Homo sapiens: one gene and its partners. The protein of the gene in region 5 interacts with the protein of the main gene of each other region in a pairwise test. Each region holds a gene or a part of one and is shown on either strand. Other genes may lie near its edges.

Evidence for each region.
Region 1: the proteins of ZDHHC21 (region 5) and FAM210B interact in binary tests that used the Homo sapiens proteins (3 or more experiments, as listed by UniProt).
Region 2: the proteins of ZDHHC21 (region 5) and PGRMC2 interact in binary tests that used the Homo sapiens proteins (3 or more experiments, as listed by UniProt).
Region 3: the proteins of ZDHHC21 (region 5) and MUC1 interact in binary tests that used the Homo sapiens proteins (3 or more experiments, as listed by UniProt).
Region 4: the proteins of ZDHHC21 (region 5) and ELOVL4 interact in binary tests that used the Homo sapiens proteins (3 or more experiments, as listed by UniProt).
Region 6: the proteins of ZDHHC21 (region 5) and ERGIC3 interact in binary tests that used the Homo sapiens proteins (3 or more experiments, as listed by UniProt).

Annotation. Positions count from the first base shown.
Region 1 is NC_000020.11:56,361,974-56,365,473, forward strand, and holds part of FAM210B (protein FAM210B, mitochondrial), read left to right. Parts: intron 1-3,113; coding exon 3,114-3,289; intron 3,290-3,500. UniProt on the Homo sapiens protein: Plays a role in erythroid differentiation. Involved in cell proliferation and tumor cell growth suppression. Involved in the metabolic reprogramming of cancer cells in a PDK4-dependent manner.
Region 2 is NC_000004.12:128,281,314-128,284,813, reverse strand, and holds part of PGRMC2 (membrane-associated progesterone receptor component 2), read left to right. Parts: intron 1-3,500. UniProt on the Homo sapiens protein: Required for the maintenance of uterine histoarchitecture and normal female reproductive lifespan. May serve as a universal non-classical progesterone receptor in the uterus.
Region 3 is NC_000001.11:155,185,324-155,187,619, reverse strand, and holds the end of MUC1 (mucin-1 isoform 10 precursor), read left to right. Parts: intron 1-43; coding exon 44-165; intron 166-245; coding exon 246-395; intron 396-1,410; coding exon 1,411-1,485; 3' UTR 1,486-1,796; downstream 1,797-2,296. UniProt on the Homo sapiens protein: The alpha subunit has cell adhesive properties. Can act both as an adhesion and an anti-adhesion protein. May provide a protective layer on epithelial cells against bacterial and enzyme attack.
Region 4 is NC_000006.12:79,927,054-79,930,553, forward strand, and holds part of ELOVL4 (very long chain fatty acid elongase 4), read right to left. Parts: intron 1-3,500. UniProt on the Homo sapiens protein: Catalyzes the first and rate-limiting reaction of the four reactions that constitute the long-chain fatty acids elongation cycle.
Region 5 is NC_000009.12:14,658,933-14,662,432, reverse strand, and holds part of ZDHHC21 (palmitoyltransferase ZDHHC21), read left to right. Parts: intron 1-106; coding exon 107-218; intron 219-3,500. UniProt on the Homo sapiens protein: Palmitoyltransferase that catalyzes the addition of palmitate onto various protein substrates. Palmitoylates sex steroid hormone receptors, including ESR1, PGR and AR, thereby regulating their targeting to the plasma membrane.
Region 6 is NC_000020.11:35,548,578-35,552,077, forward strand, and holds part of ERGIC3 (endoplasmic reticulum-Golgi intermediate compartment protein 3), read left to right. Parts: coding exon 1-97; intron 98-230; coding exon 231-288; intron 289-3,500. UniProt on the Homo sapiens protein: Possible role in transport between endoplasmic reticulum and Golgi. Positively regulates trafficking of the secretory proteins SERPINA1/alpha1-antitrypsin and HP/haptoglobin.

The DNA of each region.
Region 1 (3,500 bases), on a different chromosome or scaffold from region 5:
CTCAAAAATATAAAATAATAAAATAAAAGATATGTTGGCCAGCTTGGTCTTGAACTTCTGGCCTCAAGCAATCCTCCTACACCTCAGCTTCCCAAAGTGTTAGGATTACAAGCATGAGTCACCGTGCCCAGCCAATATTTTCAAAGTACTCAGAACAGTGCCTAGTACAGAATATACACAATATAGTGTTTATTATTAATATGATTTCTCAAGTGGAAGAAAACAGGTGTCACTCCAAACACTGCGATCGGCTTGGCAAGGTCCTTGGCTCATTCTTTAAACCTTCCTACCCCCTCTCTATTACAGGTTTTTGTACTTTAAAAAATGTTGGGGAGAGGCAGAAGGGGCATCTCACACACACACTGTCTCACACACACTCTCACACACATGTGCATGCATGCTGAGTACAGACAGAAGATGTGTCACGCCGTCCTGTGCATTCAGGACAGTGCCTAACACATCCCGGGTACTTACGGCAATGTTTCACGAAGAAATGAATGTCTAAAAATTTTCCATTGCCTGCAAGTCACGCCCTCATAAATTCTTTTATTTCAGCTTCTTTAGTCTCCCCAAAGGTTAGGAAGAAAAATGCGTGGCTCACAGTGCTTATAGATGGGTGTTTTTATCAAAACAAAAGGAATAAAATTGTCCAGTAACTGGGTGTTCTCTAGAATGTCAGAAGCCAACCGTGGTGCCAGCTAACCCGAGATTGTCCCTGTGTCTGAATGTCTTGGCCCTACCACAGTCTTGCAGTAGATTCTGCTCAGTTCTATAGCTGGAATCCTGGCTGCCTTTTTATTTTTATTTTTTGGCCAAAAGTCCTTTTGCCAAAATAAAGACTATAAAGAAGAGGGCCCTCGCAGAGACAGCTGCAGTCGGTCCAGTGATTGGACAGAATGGGGCCAGGTGTCAAGGGCATGGGTGTTTGGCCCTGCGAGGGGCTGTAGGTGGCCTCCTATCAGTCCCCACCACCTGGCTGCTGTCCCCTCTGCAGCCTCCCTCAGCAGCTGGAGGTGGGTGGGGCTTGTTTATCAGGAAGAACCGATGCCCTCCACAGCCATCCTGGCCGGGGGTGGCAGGACTAGTCAGAAGGCTTCAAGGAAACGGGAGGTCACATGTGCTGGCCAAAGAAAGGGGGGCTGATGACATCTTCCCTCCTCCCCTCCAGAGCCTGGACATTCTGGAAAAGTGTCTTCCTTTAAGAATGGTCATTCTGGCAGGACAGGAAAGGGGAGCCTGCTGAGTACCACAGAGGCTGAGGCCTGGTGGTCACCAGCCCAGTCACCAGTCCATGCTGCCAGTTAGCCGTCCCTCCCTCCTGAGCCTCAGTCATCCATCTGTCAAAACAGGAGCGACAAAGGTTCCTGGGTCATGAGGCAGTGAGGGATTTATGAAATGACGCCTTTGAAGTGGAAGCTCAACTCCTGGCTCAGCAGAAGGGACCTGTCATCGGGACACTGAGGGTTTTCCTCAAATGTTCTAAAAAATCTTATGCCTCTAAAAATAACAGGGTAAAAGTGGGCCAGCTGCAGAGCCCATAACAAGAGCTGACCTCCAGCCAGGTGCGCATCACCTGCCGGGACAAGCCCCAGGACTGTCCTTAGAGAAGTCTTTTGATTAAAGTGCTCTGTTATTGAGAAGTGGTTTTTTTCCCTCCCCTAATGTGGGTGAGGTTGGTATTTTTGTTTCTCCCACACATTCCAGGCTTGGTAGGTGCTCAGTAACTGTTAGCAGATGTCCCATGCAATCCATGATTTCTGTACAAGTCCTGGTAGGGCACTGTGCAAAAATCGCCCCCACTTTGTGTGTTTCAGATGTCAGGTGTAAATCTTGATTCTAGGAGTAAATCTGCCATCGCTTTTGCTGCATTAATTTTGTGCGCACCGTCCTTTTTTGATGGCATATAACATGGTTGTCACATGCTCAGGCTGTGGCCTTGGAGGGCCTGGGTTCTAATCTTGGTGACATCAGGCCAATGACCTCACCTCAGCAAGCCTGTGTTGCTCCTTTGCAAAGTGGGAAAAGCAGTAGTATCTACCTCTGAAGGTTGGCATGAGGATGGAAGGAGAAAGGGTTGGAGGACCACCTGGCTCAGAGAAAATGCTTGATAAAGGATCATTGTCCCCAAGCTTGTGAGCCCTGGTGTTTTAGTTACTATTGCTGCTGTAACAGATGAGCACATAACCTGGTGGTTTAAAACAATCCACATTTATTATCTTACACTTCTAGAGGTCAGAAGTCCAAAATGGGTCTTAATGCACTAAAGTCAAGGTCTCAGCAGAGATGGGTCCTTCTAGGGGCTCGAATCCATGTCCTGCCTTTTCCAGCTTAAAGCCGCTTGCATTCCTTGGCTCATGGCCCTTGCCTCCATAAGCCAGTAGCACCGCATCTTCAGCTCTCTCACTCTGCTTCTGTCCTCACAACCCCCTCCCCGACACTGAGTTTCCTGCCTCCCTCTCTTCACTTATAAGGACCCTTGTGATGACGTTGGTAATAATGTAGCCCAGGTAATCCGGGATCATCTCCCTATCTCAAGACCCTTAATCACATCTGCAAAGTTCTTCTGCCATGTAAGGTGACATATTCACAGATCCTGGGATTGGGACATCTTTGGAGTCATCATTCTGCCAGCCATACCTAGTTCCAGGCTTGCATTGCACTTAGTGACTAAGTTGGCTCAAACTCGGCTCACTGAGTAGGAAAGGGGTAACTGATCCACGCCTGTAATCCTAGCACTTTGGGAGGCCAAGGCGGGTGGATCACCAGGTCAGGAGATCAAGACCAACCTGGCTAACACAGTGAAACCCCATCTCTACTAAAAATACAAAAAATTAGCTGGGTGTGGTGGCACACACCTGTAATCCCAGCTACTTGAGAGGCTGAGGCAAAAGAATCCTTTGAACCAGGGAGGTGGAGGTTGCAATGAGCCACAATCATGCCACTGCACTCCAGCCTGGATGACAGAGTGAGACTCTGTCTCAAAAGAAAAAGGAAAGGGGTAACTGATCTCTCATCCAGCAGGAAAGAGTATAACATTGCATGCGTGTATAAAAGCCGGTAATGACTGCCCGTGCCTGCCCTAAAGCACCTCCTCTTCTCTGATTTGTACACAGGACCCCAGCCAGGCCACGGGGACAACAGGCAGCAGCGTCAGCTGCACAGAGGAGAAAAAGCAAAGCAAGTCACAGCAACTGAAAAAGATTTTTCAAGAGTATGGCACTGTTGGCGTGTCATTGCACATTGGAATCTCATTAATTTCCTTGGGCATATTTTACATGGTTGTGTCAAGGTAAGATTTTTGACAGTAATTAATATTTGTTTTTTACTGTCATGTAAGATTCTATGTGAATAAGAACGTGTTTGCTAAGACTTTTTTTTTAAGACAGGGTCTCACTCCACTGCCCAGGCTGGAGTGCAGTGGCATGATCACAGCTCACTGCAGTCTCGACCTCCCTGGGCTCAAGTGATCCTCCCACCTCAGCCTCCCAAGTAGCTGACAC
Region 2 (3,500 bases), on a different chromosome or scaffold from region 5:
TAAAACAGATACAAGTTCAGTTTTGCTTTTAATTTTTATTTTCATCCTCATAAATTAAGCAGTTTTGTAGCAGAATAATTCAGAAGCAGTAATTGTTAGTTTCTATGCCTAGCCAATATCTACCCTAATTTCACAATAATGGTTTTAGGATTAAATTTTGTGAGATTTTTCCATAATGCTAAACATGTGTTTATTTTTAGTCATACATTTTTAAAGTTCAGGCTCTTAATTAAATATTGACAGTGTAATTTGGTGGAGTATACACATTTTGGCAAACAGTTGGCATTAACTGTATTTGCCAATATTAAATTTAGTAACAGATCAGGCACTTGGCCAGCAGGTGAGGAAAGTTTGGTCATGTAAAAAACTGAATACAGGAGGAGAAAGAAAACCAGATTCGTTAAGCACCCACAATATCAGATCCATTAATTTTTTTATCTCCATAATTCCTCAGTGAAGTTGGTAAGTATTCCTGCTCTACAGGTGGGGAGTCTGAGGTCTAGGTATTTTAGGTAAATTGGCTTGGATTACATGTATGTCTAATAAATCCAGATGGATATTACCACACAGCTTATCTATACTATTTCTAGTAAACTGCATCCTGTGATAAACTTGTAGAGAATCTTACTGTTGTTTTTCTTTATACTCTTCCCTGGTTCCCATAAATCCAAGGATTTAAAGCCTCAAAAAAAACATGCCTTTCGGCCAGGCACGGTGGCTCACGCGTGTAATCCCAGCACTTTGGGAGGCTGAGGCAAGCGGATCACTTGAGGTCAGGAGTTTGAGACCAGACTGTCCAACATGGTGAAACCCCATCTCTACTAAAAAAAAAAAAATAAAAATAAAAAAATAAAGGCCAGGCACGGTGGCTCATGCCTTAATCCCAGCACTTTGAGAGACCAAGGCGGGCAGATCACCTGAGGTCAGGAGTTCGGGACCAGCCTGGCCAACATGGCCAAACCCTGTTTCTACAAAAATACAAAAAAAAATTAGCTGAGCTTGATGGTGGGTGCCTGTAATCCCAGCTACTGGGGAGGCTGAGGCAAGAGAATCACTTGAACCTAGGAGGTGGAGGTTGCAGTGAGCTGAGATCTCGCCATTGCACTCCAGCCTGGATGACAGAACGAGACTCTGTCTCAAAAAAAAAAAAAAAATGCTTTTATGGCTTTATGTTATACTGCCCAAAATGGTGGCCCCAGGTGGCTAATTAAAAGTAAATTAATTAAAATTAGATATAATTAAAAATTGAGTTCCTTAGTAACACTAGCCACATATAAAGTGCTGAGCCCACCATGGCTACCATTTTGGACAGTGCACTTTGTATATTTTCATATTGTGAGACTGGCGTGCCACCTACTGCACTAACAAGGCACCTCTTAGAGTATTTCTGTCTTCCCAGAGAGTTGTTGAAAACAACACTGATTCTAAAGGTCAGAGGAGGAGAAGGAGGAAACTCCATTTATTGAGCTTAGTATCGCTAATTTTCAAACAGCCCTATGAGATTGCCCAAAGCCACATATCTAGTAGGTGGCAACACTAAAAATTAAATCCAGATTTTCATAGCTTCAATCCTTCCCATTGTATTACAACATAGTCTATTCAGTTTCACATGTTTACAGAATCATAAGTTTTGAAGACTCAAACAGCTAGTATAATTTTTAACAATTTTATTTAATATTACTGCAATGGAACTTTACCAAAACAGTGCTTTTATTTTTTTGGAATGGCAAAAAATTATACACTTGACTTTTTGATAGTTTATTTTGCGTTGTTGAACCTTGCAATACTGCTGCTCCCTTATTCCAGGTGGAGTATTCTTTGACATATACCAAAGCTATATTTTTTCCAACTTACCTTTTAAATTCCACTGAAAGAAAAAAGTCACGTAAGAAGAACCCCATGAGATGCCTAATATTTAGGAGGTTGGGGAAAAGAACACATGTACCTTGAAGTGTTTTTCCTCCATTTTAAACTTTATCTTCAATTTGTTCACTTTTATTTAACACTTTAGTTTGCAGAATTGGAAACTCTGTGTTTGCAGAGTTGCATCATAAAAACTGGACCCAATCTTACCTATTTCTTCATGGATGTCCTAAAGTTGCCACTGCCCACCTCTCATCCCAGCTTCTTGCTTTGAAGCCAACTGGCTTTGTTGTTTGGGCTAATGCCCATATGCATCTATTACCTACCAGTAAGATAAAAGGATTAGCTAGGTTTTCTGATGATTTTTTATATTCTGCTCAAATTTCTACTAGTTATTTCTATTATAACTACTTAGTTGGCTCTGAATTCAACATCATCCCGTTGTTTTTAATCTTTGAGGGAATCGTATTTGTGTTAAATCCTAAAGCATATTATAAAAGGATAGCTTGAAACCAGAAGCTGTTATTCAGGGTGGAAGAAAGGAGTAGATTTAATAACATCTGGAATTAGCCATTCAAGTTCTTTTAATTGTTTTTTCAACACTCTGACATAGACCACTCCTTTCCCTGTGCACCCAAGACAGACATGACTGTATAACTCCTGTATTCTTTTGGAGCCTATATCCAGTCTCAGGATCTTTAATAATAGGATTTCAGCTCCATTTTTAAATACTGAGGAAGACTTCCCTGGATTTCATTACAGTAAAAGCTTAAGAGATGAGAAATGGAGTTAACTGAGTCTTCAAAACAGATGTGTTCCTATCCTCATGGAGTTAATAGTCTATTAAGGAAGAGAGGCAGTAAACAAGGATTTCAGTATGTAATTATAATCTGTAATATGCTATAAAAGAAATTAATAGAATGGGAATAGAGGGTAACAAAGGACTTTATTTAGATTAAGTGGCTAAGCAAGGTTACCTTTTTTATGTTAGATTCTCGAGAAAAAGGGCTCGACATTTAAGCAAAAACCTAACAGAGCCAGCCATACAAAGATTGGGTATGAGAATGTTCTGAAGTGAGATTGTTACTATGCTTTCTATACCGAGCAAAGCCATCTAGCAGTAGATCTAGAACTGATCATACTAGAAACCTCTTTAACACTGTTGATTTTCAGATTTTACTTCAGCCTTTATCTGATTAGTATTAACACAATATTTCATTTTCCATCCCTTTTAGTCAATCTGTGTTGTTTTATTTTTCTCACATTAATGACATATAGCTGGATTTTTTCATTTAATATTAGCACTATGTCCTTTAATAGCTTAATTAGTGTATATGTTTTGTGATTACGGGTATATTTAGGTTTATTTCTATCATCTTATTTTGTGATTTCTCTTCACCTTACTTTTCTTTGCCTCTTTTCCCACTATTTTTCCTTCTCTGATTGATTTTTTTATTTCTTCCATTTTCTCTCCTCTACTGATTTGGATGTATTCTATTTCTATCCTTTTAGTGATTTCCTTAAGTTTTTGCTATAGATGACTATCCTATGCTTCTGAACAATATAAGAATTTTAGCCAAACATCATTTTAGTGTCAATTTGAAAAAGCTGCCTCTTTAAGATACTTTACTGACATT
Region 3 (2,296 bases), on a different chromosome or scaffold from region 5:
GCCTCCTCTGGGAGACTGCCCTGACCACTGCTTTTCCTTTTAGTGAGTGATGTGCCATTTCCTTTCTCTGCCCAGTCTGGGGCTGGGGTGCCAGGCTGGGGCATCGCGCTGCTGGTGCTGGTCTGTGTTCTGGTTGCGCTGGCCATTGTCTATCTCATTGCCTTGGTGAGTGCAGTCCCTGGCCCTGATCAGAGCCCCCCGGTAGAAGGCACTCCATGGCCTGCCATAACCTCCTATCTCCCCAGGCTGTCTGTCAGTGCCGCCGAAAGAACTACGGGCAGCTGGACATCTTTCCAGCCCGGGATACCTACCATCCTATGAGCGAGTACCCCACCTACCACACCCATGGGCGCTATGTGCCCCCTAGCAGTACCGATCGTAGCCCCTATGAGAAGGTGAGATTGGGCCCCACAGGCCAGGGGAAGCAGAGGGTTTGGCTGGGCAAGGATTCTGAAGGGGGTACTTGGAAAACCCAAAGAGCTTGGAAGAGGTGAGAAGTGGCGTGAAGTGAGCAGGGGAGGGCCTGGCAAGGATGAGGGGCAGAGGTCAGAGGAGTTTTGGGGGACAGGCCTGGGAGGAGACTATGGAAGAAAGGGGCCCTCAAGAGGGAGTGGCCCCACTGCCAGAATTCCTAAAAGATCATTGGCCGTCCACATTCATGCTGGCTGGCGCTGGCTGAACTGGTGCCACCGTGGCAGTTTTGTTTTGTTTTGCTTTTTTGCACCCAGAGGCAAAATGGGTGGAGCACTATGCCCAGGGGAGCCCTTCCCGAGGAGTCCCAGGGGTGAGCCTCTGTGCCCCTAATCATCTCCTAGGAATGGAGGGTAGACCGAGAAAGGCTGGCATAGGGGGAGGTTTCCCAGGTAGAAGAAGAAGTGTCAGCAGACCAGGTGAGCGTGGGTGCCAGTGGGGTTCTTGGGAGCTTCAAGGAAGCAAGGAACGCTCCCTCCTTCCTCTCCTGGTCTTTCTCTATGGGACCTAGTAAATAATTACTGCAGCCACCTGAGGCTGGAAAACCACTCCAGGTGGGGGAGGAGAGAGTTTAGTTTTCTTGCTCCTATTTTCCTCCTCCTGGAGACCTCCCTCTCTCGGCTTTACAAAGACACAGATACACCCCGCCCCCCAAAACACACACACACACACACACACACCTCCTTAGGCTGGAACAGCAGAGAATGGAGGGACAAGGGGGCTGATTAGAGCCAAGAAGAGGGAGTGAAGGAGAGCAGAGGGAGGAGGGCAGCCCTGTTTACAGTCACCTGGCTGGTGGGGTGGCAGGTGCTCTCTCTGAATTAACCCTTTGAGAGCTGGCCAGGACTCTGGACTGATTACCCCAGCCTGGGGTGGCATCCAGGGGCTCTAGGAGGTACCTTTTGCTCCTCACCCTGGATCTCTTTTCCTTCCACCCAGGTTTCTGCAGGTAATGGTGGCAGCAGCCTCTCTTACACAAACCCAGCAGTGGCAGCCACTTCTGCCAACTTGTAGGGGCACGTCGCCCGCTGAGCTGAGTGGCCAGCCAGTGCCATTCCACTCCACTCAGGTTCTTCAGGGCCAGAGCCCCTGCACCCTGTTTGGGCTGGTGAGCTGGGAGTTCAGGTGGGCTGCTCACAGCCTCCTTCAGAGGCCCCACCAATTTCTCGGACACTTCTCAGTGTGTGGAAGCTCATGTGGGCCCCTGAGGGCTCATGCCTGGGAAGTGTTGTGGTGGGGGCTCCCAGGAGGACTGGCCCAGAGAGCCCTGAGATAGCGGGGATCCTGAACTGGACTGAATAAAACGTGGTCTCCCACTGCGCCAACTTCTGATCTTTCATCTGTGACCCGTGGGCAGCAGGGCGGTCAGAATGTGTGTGAGGGGGCTGGGGGAGGAGACAGGGAGGCCAGGAGGCAGTAAGGAGCGAGTTTGTTTGAGAAGCAGGAGATGTGAGGAGGAGGTGACATTGGGGAGTAGGGGTGGCCTGAGGAGCCACCTCTGGCTAACCCTGGCAGCACAAGAGGAAGGAGGAAACGAAACCCAGGCGGGCTTTGGAGGGCTAGCGTGACTGGGCTCCGTGACTGAGCTCTGTGTGCCAGTGGCTCTCCCCTCTCCTCGCCTGGCCCACGCCCTCCTTGCCCCCTGGCATGGTGCCCCCCAGGTGGCTCTATTCTTAGCTGTCCGGGTGTGAAGTAAATCCTTGGGCAGTGATAACAGCCCAGAGTCAACAGGGTTGAGATAAGCAGAGGCTGGGTCAGATCCGGGCGCTGGCACCAGGCCCAGCCCCCTCCCTGACCCCGGCTGCCCCACCAGCCTGCTGCCCCT
Region 4 (3,500 bases), on a different chromosome or scaffold from region 5:
TTACATATGTGTAACTATATATATAAAATGCAACACATTATTTTACTTAAAATGAATTGATTGTCCAGCATATTCAAATACACAACCATAAATCAATTTTATAATGGAATGTTGCCACAAGTAAAACATTTCTGAAACAAGCATGATAATGAAATATGGATGGGATTAACAAAAATTCATCTTTTAACACATTATAAAAATATATTAATATTAATTTTTATATTTCTAAAAGCTAAACAACAGTTGAAGGTTGCAAATCTAATTTCTAGTTTATTCTTGGCAATGCAAAACATTTTATGTCGTATTTTGAAGAAATAATGTATTTTTAAAGTAGTAAAAGAAAATTCAACTTCTTAGAACCAACCTAAATGAATTTAACTTAATTGTTGATCATAATAACTCCCTATTTAAACTGTCATTTTTACTAAAGCCTGTATATGCAAAATGCTTCTGGATTAGTGAACTAGGTATTAAAATACCTTACTTAAAAAATTAATCTGTGTCTATATACTGTCAATAGACAGTAAGATACAAGATACGAAACACAATATTTAATCAAACAATTTGCAAAGTCAGGAAATGACACAACTATGGTTTTAATGAAATCAGAGTTGTTAAGAAGGTGAGCTATTGCTTGATGACTCGAGATATGGGAAAAAAAGGTGATAATGACTTGAAAGAAAAACACATATGGGAACCAGGAAAACAGAAAAACTGATTTTATTTCATAGTTTTAAAAGGAGGTCTACTATTCATAGAGATTATGGCTATATCACTCAAATCAAACACATTTCAGAGTTAAAAATAAACCAATATATTTGAACCACAGGAGAGATGGTAAACTTCTCACAAGGAGGAAATGACTTAAAAGATAGCACGGCTGACTTTTGTTAAAAAGGCGTTGTGCCACGAAGGTCTTATCAGTGACTGTTCACTTTTCTTAATGGCATTTTATCATTTTATGTTCATTATCATTCTATGACCATATCTTTCTATGCTAAAGGCCCCCTATAAAACATGAGGTGTGCATCTACTTAGGTATTTCTTTTTCTATATTATAGAAAAAAAAAGATTTAGACAAACCCCCTATATTAGAGAAGAAACATTTAGACAAACTCTCTGTTCTAGGTCACAGAGAAGGAGTTGCTGTGGTATCCTGTTCTTTTCCACCAACTTTAAGGCAGGCGCTGTTTTTCCCATGAGACTTATACAAAGAGCAAAAGTACTCTGATTAATGCCATACTCCATGTAACAAAGAAAGGAAGATAAATGTATCTGTGAGGAGATTTTAATTCCTAACATCATAGATTATCTCTCACCCTTACCACACACAGAATTCCTACTGACTTCAAAGAAAGTTCTGAGTAGCGGGTAGAAAAAAAAAATTAAAGAAATAGGTCCAAACCTCTGCCAGAAATTAAGAGTAAGTAAAAGTGCTCATTCTTTTTGATGTACAGTGTGGTATGCTGTATCGTTTTCATTCAACAGAGAAATTTAAAGAGAGGACTACCACAGGAGAGAGGGAAAGAGACACTAGTGAGAAGCTGAAGATCTTACAATATGAAACACTAATAGAGGCCAATAGAAGAGTAAAAAAGTAAAGAGAAACAGGAAATAACAGAGGCATCAGAGAAAGCACACAAGACCCTACCAGTAAGTAGACTGGTGACTGGGTTTTTTTTTTTTTTTTTTTTTTTTTTTTAAGAAATGGAGTCTCATTCTATTGTCCAGACTAGAGGGCAGTGGTGCACACATGGCTCACTGCAGCCTCCACCTCCAGGGCTCAAGTGATCCACCTGCCTCAGCCTCCTGAGTTGCTGATGCCACAAATTATAAGTAAATAAAAATGTTCATTCTTTTTTATATATAGTGTGGTGCACTGTTGTTCTCTCATTCAACAGAGAATTTCCAAAAGAGAGAAGGAAAGAGGCACTAGTAAGAAGCCACCATGACCAGCTGACTGGCTGAGTTCTAACACTGGCTCTGCTACTGTGCATAGGACCTTAGGAGCACAATCTATCTTCATTTCCTCCATCTGTAAAACTGGATGGGAAGTAGGTGAACCAGATTAGTGCTTCTCCAGTTTCAATGAGAAAACGAATCACCAGGTTGGGGAGGGGGGCGGGTGGGCATGGTAAAAATGCAGATTTTGAGACAGTGGGTCAGATATGCAGCCCATTTCTTTTCTTTTCTTTTTTCTTTTTTGAGACAGAGTCTCGTTGTGTCACCTAGGCTGGAGTAAAGTAGCACGATCTCCGTCCACTGCAGGCTCAGCCTCCTGAGCTCAAGCCATCCTCCCACCTCAGACTCCCAAGTAGCTGGTCCTACAGGCACACGCCAACACACCCTATTACTTTTTGTATTTTTTGTAGAGACAGGATTTTGTCATGCTGCCTAGGCTGGTCTCAAACTCCTAAACTCAAGCAATCCATCCACCTTGGCCTCCCAAAGTGTTAGGATTACAGGCGTGAGCCACCATGCCCAGCCCATGCAGCCCATTTCTAAGAAGACCACATTTTCCAGGAAGCTCTAACTGATGCTATGCCATTATTCCATGGACCATCCCCTTTTGAGCAGTAACAAACTACATGATCATTTAGGTTTATTTTAACTTCTGAAAATTGTTACTTTTAAAAATAATTATTAGGAGGAAGAATAGACTAATGGTGAGGAAAACTGGATCAAGAAAATTTTAACTGGTCAGGGGACGCATTTTGCATGACCAGAGCACCTGCACATGTTACTATTCCATTACAGCACTCATTACACTGTCCAGTGACCTTCTTTTAAACTGTTTTCTCCCTGAAAAGAGGGGCTGGGTGTTTCATTCTTGTATTGCAAGGCCTATCAAAGTACCTAAAAATATATTTGATGAATAAATAAAGAGTAGATAATTTTTTCACACTATTCCTCTATTCTCTATCCTTTCTGCCAAATCCAAAAGCACATTTGTTGATATTCAAGGTTTCCTCAGTGTCCAAGAACCCTTCCTAGAGCTTTTCCCAGATCCTCCTCTATGCTGGCATAATAACTTTATCCTCAAGTCAACAACTCATCAACCTAGTATTTAGTGAATATATGTGCTCTACAAAGCTCAATGACCTTTTACTTCATTCCTTACTCCAGGGGAAAAAAGCAATGCCCTCACTTCTTTGCCCAACAATGCAAGGCATGCATTCATTCAACAACCACTTAACAAATCCCTGTTTTCAGCCTATAAAAGGCCACATTTTACACCATACCCTTCTCAAATTAGCCCTTCTAGTTCAGCAGGGTCAGAGAGCTTTCAAAAATTCAGCCTCCCAGGATTATCATGGAAGCTACAGTAACTGTCAACCCCTAATCCACAGCATAACAATTCCCAACCTTTTAATAATATTTGGATGAAATTCCTCCATGTCTTTACATGTTATAATACTATACTAGTTATGTTTGTTTTTCTGCATGTATTTGCATTAATATTTCCTTTAGTGCTTCTGATGAGATGCAAATATTCTATA
Region 5 (3,500 bases):
GAGTTTTATGTTGAAGGCTTCCTATAAAATCTTCTAAACAACTGTTGGTAAATTTCAGCATTACCCACTTGCCTTCATTAAATGGATTTTAATTTCTTTTCTTTAGAAAGGGAGTTCTGGGAATTATGTAACAAGTGTAATTTGATGAGACCAAAGCGTTCCCATCACTGTAGCCGCTGCGGCCACTGTGTGAGGAGAATGGATCATCACTGTCCATGGTAAGAATAATTCACTTCTAGCAAAGAAAAGAGGGGTGGGTAATAAAATGTAAATCTTACAACTTGGCAGCTTTAAACAACAGTTATGTTAAAGTTATATAGTTTTACAATATCTTAATAAGGATATCTTTATTTAGATTATATGGTTCTGTCAACTCCCAAAGTCATTTTTCCACAGAAATCCTATCTTTTCTAACAGGGAGAGATTTGAGCCAAAAAAGTAAGAATTAACTGCAGCCTGATATACAAAAGGATTAAGGTGGTTGTATTAAATGAGGCAATGTATATAAAACATTTACTACAATATCTGACAAGTAGGATGTACTTAAATGGTAGCTATTTCTAATTGTAATAAACCATATGCATCCGAATGTTTATATCCCCTTTTCATTTGTTTAATTAATAACATTTCAGACACCCTGATAACCTCTTCCTTACCCCTTAAAGCTTTTTAAGCATTATGTATTGGATATAGCTACTACCATTATGTACTTGTTGGAAGTATGTGAGTGATAATTAGCTGATTCTGCAGAACTGCTAACAGTTTTGGTCAATAGGGGGCTCTCTTGTAATATTTAAAGAAAATGTTCAGTTGAGAAATATAATCTTCGAAAACAAATGCTGCGTGAATTCTGTATTGTATCTCATTTTAAAGCTGTCACAAAAATCTGTGAACAAGATATTGTATTTAATTCTGTTTTCTTAGCATTGGCTCTCTGTATAAATATTTAAACTGGTATAGTGTAGAATTTGACAAATGTATCTGTATACATATATGTAGTATTTATGTTTGTATACACATACATGCATATATGCAAATTTACATAATGAGCCTCTTAATTTATAATTGCTTTTATTTAAAATTGATGCAAGTGGAGTTTAGCTTTTTCTAATGTTAGTCTATTTAGAGTTTTCTTTATTTTTGATAACTTATTTTGATAGCACAGTTATTCAGCAAACTTCTGGTGGAAATTTGTTTTTTTGCATAGACTGTTTAAAAAGAAGATAATTTCCTGAAATAGGAAAAAGTAAGAGCATTTTCGATAAAAGCATTTTGTTACTACATAAAAATTTTAAAAATTTCTAAATCTGTCAACAAGATAGAGTAGTGTATGACATATAGTTGATATTCAAAACTGTGCCTTGAATTTAAACGTAAATAATTATTTGGGAATTACTTGGGAATAAAGATTAATTCCCAAGTAATTTTCTTAAGCTCAGTGATCTGTTTGCTCTCACAATAGTAATAGATTTTTAGAAAGCTACGTGAAACATGTATTCAGATAATTGCTGATCATACAGAAAAGCTCAGTTTTTAAGCGCTTCTTATTGTAGAGTTTCTTATTCACTAAAATACAAATGTTCATGATGGAAGTGGATATTGATGCTTTTTTTTTCAAACGAATGCAGTAGTAAGAAAGAACTAGGAAAGACTCACTTATTGGTGACCAAATAAGGTGCTATTTAACCTTAATTCTAACGTTGGGGTGATTTCTCTTTCTGGGCCTCTTGCTTCCATAGTTTTAGTCAACTTTTCAGAAGTTGGTAGCAGTGAGGGGGAAGTACAAAGGATTGGAGGATCAGAAAGGAGAGTAGACAAGGGACCTAAAGAGATTCAGGAATTTTTATCATTGAATTTCCTGATAGAGCACTGCTGAAATGTTCAGAGAGCAGGGGAAATGTACAGTGTAAATTGGAAGCAAGGAAAATTTTTGATGTTTTCAGAAATTGCACTACTTAACTGCCTAAGACATTTTTAGGTTTGGAGGTCAATTCTCACGTTGCCTCAAGGTTTTCTGTATTTGTGGCTCTGATCATTCTTTTTTTTTTTTTTTTTTTTTTGAGATGGAGTCTTACTCTGTTGCCCAGGCTGGAGTGCAGTGGCATGATCTCAACCTCTGCCTCACTGCAACCTCTGCCTCCTGGCCTCAAGTGATTCTCCTGCCTCAGCCTCCCGAGTAGCTGGGATTACAAGTGCATGCCACCATGCTTGGCTAATTTTTGTATTTTTAGCAGAGACGGGTTGTCACCATGTTGGCCAGGCTGGTCTCAAACTCCCAACCTCAGGTGATCTGCTCCCCTCGGCCTCCCAAAGTTCTGGGATTACAGGCTTGAGTCACCGCGCCTGGCCTGATCATTCTTTCTAAGTAGTGCAGATGTTACAAAAAGAACTCATATAGATTGAATACCTTAGTGCTTCTTAAAGCTGTTCTGGTTAAGAAGAATGCTGTGATCATAGACATTGTTTCTCAAACTTCCTGGGGACAGGAAAGATGGAACAATGATAAGTCATCTTTCAATCGGCAGCTGTTGAAGAGCACTTTTGAGTGTATATTAATACATAAGCACACTTCTCTTATAATCCTGCTTGCAAATAACAAAGCACAGTAGATTTTCTTGTTTACAAAACATGCACTCTTAAATCTTAAGAAATGCCTCTCTAAGGTTTTTCAGTTCAGGTCTGTATTTGACTTTAAAAAATGGTTTAATGACAAAGTTAAAAAGAGCGATTTAAGTTAGGACCGAAACCTGTTACATCGTTTCTTTTTCAGTGACAGTATAATACTATTTTGAAATGAAAACATTTGTGCAAAGTCATTTGTAGTCTTGAACTAGGGTTTTTTGCTGGAATTTTAGGATACTTTGACAATTTGGATACAATAAATTTGGAACAATAAAATATTCAGCTTAAATTAGCCTTGAAAATTTTTTATTGTAACATTAATCCTCTTTCCTAGTTAGGGTTCACTGTTGTATTGGTGGAAGTATAGCTGTGTGTATTTATAAATAGTTTTGAATACATTTTTATTTTCAGCAACCAGGGGTAGATTTTTAAAATGAAAAGTGAATGCTTAGCAGTTATGTCAGAGTGGTATGTTTCAGCTGGTTTACTTCAGGGCATTCAGATTGCTTTTCACAGCTAGAATGCCCTAAAGGAAGAGCAAAATACAGGGAAGCAGGGTTCTTGCTCTCTTGGCCCCTATGTCTTCTAACTCTACATCCTCTGGCCAGAGGCTTAGCTCCTTTGTTCCCTGTTTCCATATCAGTGACACAGGAGACTACCGTCTGCTCTTCCTGTCTCGCTGAGTTGTTATGAGTTGAAGGGGGATCACATATGTGGACTTCCTTTGTGAAGTGCTTTACAAATATAAGATGGTATATTTATAGTTTTCTCTGTATAGTTTGTTTTTACCTTCAAGTGGCCATAGCATATCTCCATGAAGTTAAGCATATGTGATATTATTTGTTTTTAATTTAGTCTTATTGATCCTGAGGTGAACT
Region 6 (3,500 bases), on a different chromosome or scaffold from region 5:
TACTATTGAGCAGTGCCGGCGAGAGGGCTTCAGCCAGAAGATGCAGGAGCAGAAGAATGAAGGCTGCCAGGTGTATGGCTTCTTGGAAGTCAATAAGGTATCAGGAGGGATCAAGACAAGATAGGGCCAGCTGGGCTGGGCAAGCTCCACTGGGAACCGAGGGCCCAGTCAGGCCCTGAGTAGGCAAAAGGAGGACACAGCCAGTGAATGAGAGAGAATGTTCCTTACAGGTGGCCGGAAACTTCCACTTTGCCCCTGGGAAGAGCTTCCAGCAGTCCCATGTGCACGGTGAGTGATCTGCACTAGCTGGGGAGATTTAGATGCTGGCCACCTTCTTGGTGAGCTTGAGTGGTCCTCTTCTGCCTGCTGCTCATTTGTCTTGGGCAACCATTTGGCCAGAGCAGGCCTTCATCTCAGGGCAGCAGTTTGGCACAGTGGCTAAGAGCACAGGCCGAGGAGCCAGACTGCCTGCATTCAGATACCAGTTTCAGACCTTACTGGCTGTGTGACTTTGAGAAGGTTTCTTAATCTTTTTGACTCCTGTTTTCTACTTTATAAAATGTTGTGAGGGCACTTATCTCACAGGGTGTGTGTGCAGGTTAAAGATGATAGCACGGAGCCTGGCTTGTGGTAGGTACTTGTTGAAATGGTAGCCCCCCGTGTCCGATGATGACCTGTGCATGAGGCTTTGGGAGAAGCAGAGCTAGGTTGGAGCACAGGTTCTGCCACACCTGGGCTATGTCATATTTGGGCCCTATTTAGTTGCTTCTTCTGTAAAATGGGGATGATGATAATAGTACCCACTCACAGGGCTGTTGGGGTGAACAAATGAGATTTATTCTCATTCATTTGTTCATTCATGCATTCACAAAATATTTAGTAATCACCTACTAGTCTAGTTGCTAAGGGTACAGTAGTGAACAATCTGTGCCCTCAGAACATTCTAGTAAAGAAATAGACAATAAGTATATAAAATATAAATAGTCCCCAATTAACAATGGTTCAGCTTGCAATTTTTAACTTCATGATGGGTATTACATGCATTTTTCACTTAACGATATTTTCTTTTTCTTTTTTGAGACAGAGTCTCACTCTGTCGCCCAGGCTGGAGTGCAGTGGCATGATCTTGACTCACTGCAACCTCCACCTCCTGGATTCAAGTGATTCTCCTACCTCAGCCTCTTGAGTAGCTGGGTGTACAGGTGCGTGCCACCACGCCCAGCTAAGTTTTGTATTTTTAGTAGAGATGGGGTTTCATTATGTTGGCCAGGCTGGTCTTGAACTCCTGACCTCAAGTGATCTGCCCGCCTCGGCCTCCCAAAGTGCTAGGATTACAGGCATGAGCCACCGCACCTGGCCGACTTACAATATTTTCAACTTGCAATGGGTTTATTGGGACGTAACCCCAGTGTAGGTCAGGGAGCATCTGTATATGGTATATCAGATGCTGTTAAGTCATATGGACCAAAACAAGGCAGGATAAAGATGGTAATGGGGAGGGGCTAGGGTAGGGCAGTGAGGGTCCTATTTTAAATATGGAGGTCAGGGAAAAACTCTTTGATGAGGTAATATTTTAGCAAAGACCTGAAGACAGTGAGGGAGCCAGCCATGTGGATGTCTGGGGAGGAAGTGTTACAAGCAGAGAGAACAGCAAATGCAAATTCCTAAGGCTAGAATGTGCTTGGCAAGTTCAAGATACAGTAAGAAGGTTAGGGTGGCTGGAGCAGAGGAGCATGCTTAGAAATGAAGTGAGAGAGGCCGGGTGCAGTAGCTCATACCTGTAATCCCAGCACTTTGGGAGGCCGAGGCGGGTGGATCACCTGAGGTCAGGAGTTCAAGACCAGCCTGGCCAACATGGTGAAACCCTGTCTCTACCAAAAATACAAAAATTAGCTGGGTGTGGTGGCACACGCCTGTAATCCCAGCTACTCGGGAGGCTGAGGCACGAGAATCTCTTGAACCTGGGAGGTGGAGGTTGCAGTGAGCTGAAATTGCGCCATTGTACTCCAGCCTGGGTAACAGAGTGAGACTCCATTTCAAAAAATAATAATAAATAAAGAGAGGTCACAGGGCCATATCATGCAGGGCTTGCAGGGGCATTGTAGGGACTCGGGCCGTTACTCTGCATGAGATGAGAAGCCATTGTAGGGCCCTGAAGAAGGTGAGGCATGATCTGACTTAAAAGCTCTCCAGCTGCTCTGTGGACAAGACTGGGCAGGGGAAAGGACAGAATCAGAGAGGCCCATTAGGAGGCAGTTGCAGTGATCAATCCAGGCAAAAGATGGTGGGGCACGGCCCAGAGTGGCAGTGGAAGTGGTGGGAAGTGACTGGCTTCTGGATGTATTTTGAAGGTAGAGCTGAGAAGAGTTCCTGATGGGCATGAGGGATAAAGGAAAAAGGAGTCAAGGATGCCTCCAAAGTTTTGTACCTGAGTAGTAAGAAGGATGGAGTTGCCTGTAATCCTAGCACTTTGGGAGGCCAAGGCAGGTGGATTGCCTGAGCTGAGGAGTTTGAGACCAGCCTGGGCAACATGATGAAACCTTGTCTCTACTAAAAAATGCAAAAAATCAGCCGGGCGTAGCGGCGTGCGCCTGTAGTCCCAGCTACTCGGGAGGCTGAGGTAGGAGAATTGCTTGAACCCAGGAGGCGGAGGTTGCAGGGAGCCGAGATTGTGCCATTTCACTCCAGCCTGAGCGACAGAGTGAGATTCCATCTCCATTAAAAAAAAAAAAAAGGATAGAGTTGCCATTTAGCAAGATGAGGGAGACTCAGGGCAGGTTTAGATGTTCGGAAATGGGATCGTACAGCTGGTATTCGGCTTTTGACGTGTTCAGACCAATAGCATCTGGGTGTCCTTCTAGACACCCAAGGTGTCAAGTAAGTTTTCCATTCAAGCCTGGAGTTCAGGGAGAGGACTTGCCTGGAGATGCAGATGTTGGCATCATCAGCATGTGTATAGAGCTGTGGGACTGGATGAAATCACCCTGGAGGTGAGGGCAGATGGAGAAGAAGGGAAGCTCAAAGGGCTGGGTGCCAGGCCTCCCACATTAGAGGCCAAGGGTGTCAGGGGGAATTGGTAGGGGAGACTGGAGGAGGAGTGTAAGCTGGGAATGTGGCATCCTGCCAGCCACGGACGGGTGTTTCAAATACCACATCAGATGCTTCTGGATGTCAAGCGGGAATTGACCATGGCATGTACATGCAACAGTCACTTATAGCCTTGACTGAGTCATTTAAGGGTGTGACAGGACCACCCTAGAGTGGGTTCGGGAGGGAATGGGGGAGGAGTTGGAGCCAGTATTGACAGCTCTATAGTGGAAATTGCCTAGGGGAGGAGAGAGCATGAGCTGAAGCTAGAGGGAAATGTGGAGTCGAGGGAGGCTTTTCTAAGGAGGGTGATGTAGCAGAATGTTAATATGCTGTTGGAAATTATCGACTAAAGAGCATAAGTGATGCTCCAGAGACGAGACAGTGACCGGAGTGAAGTCCTGGAGAAGGAG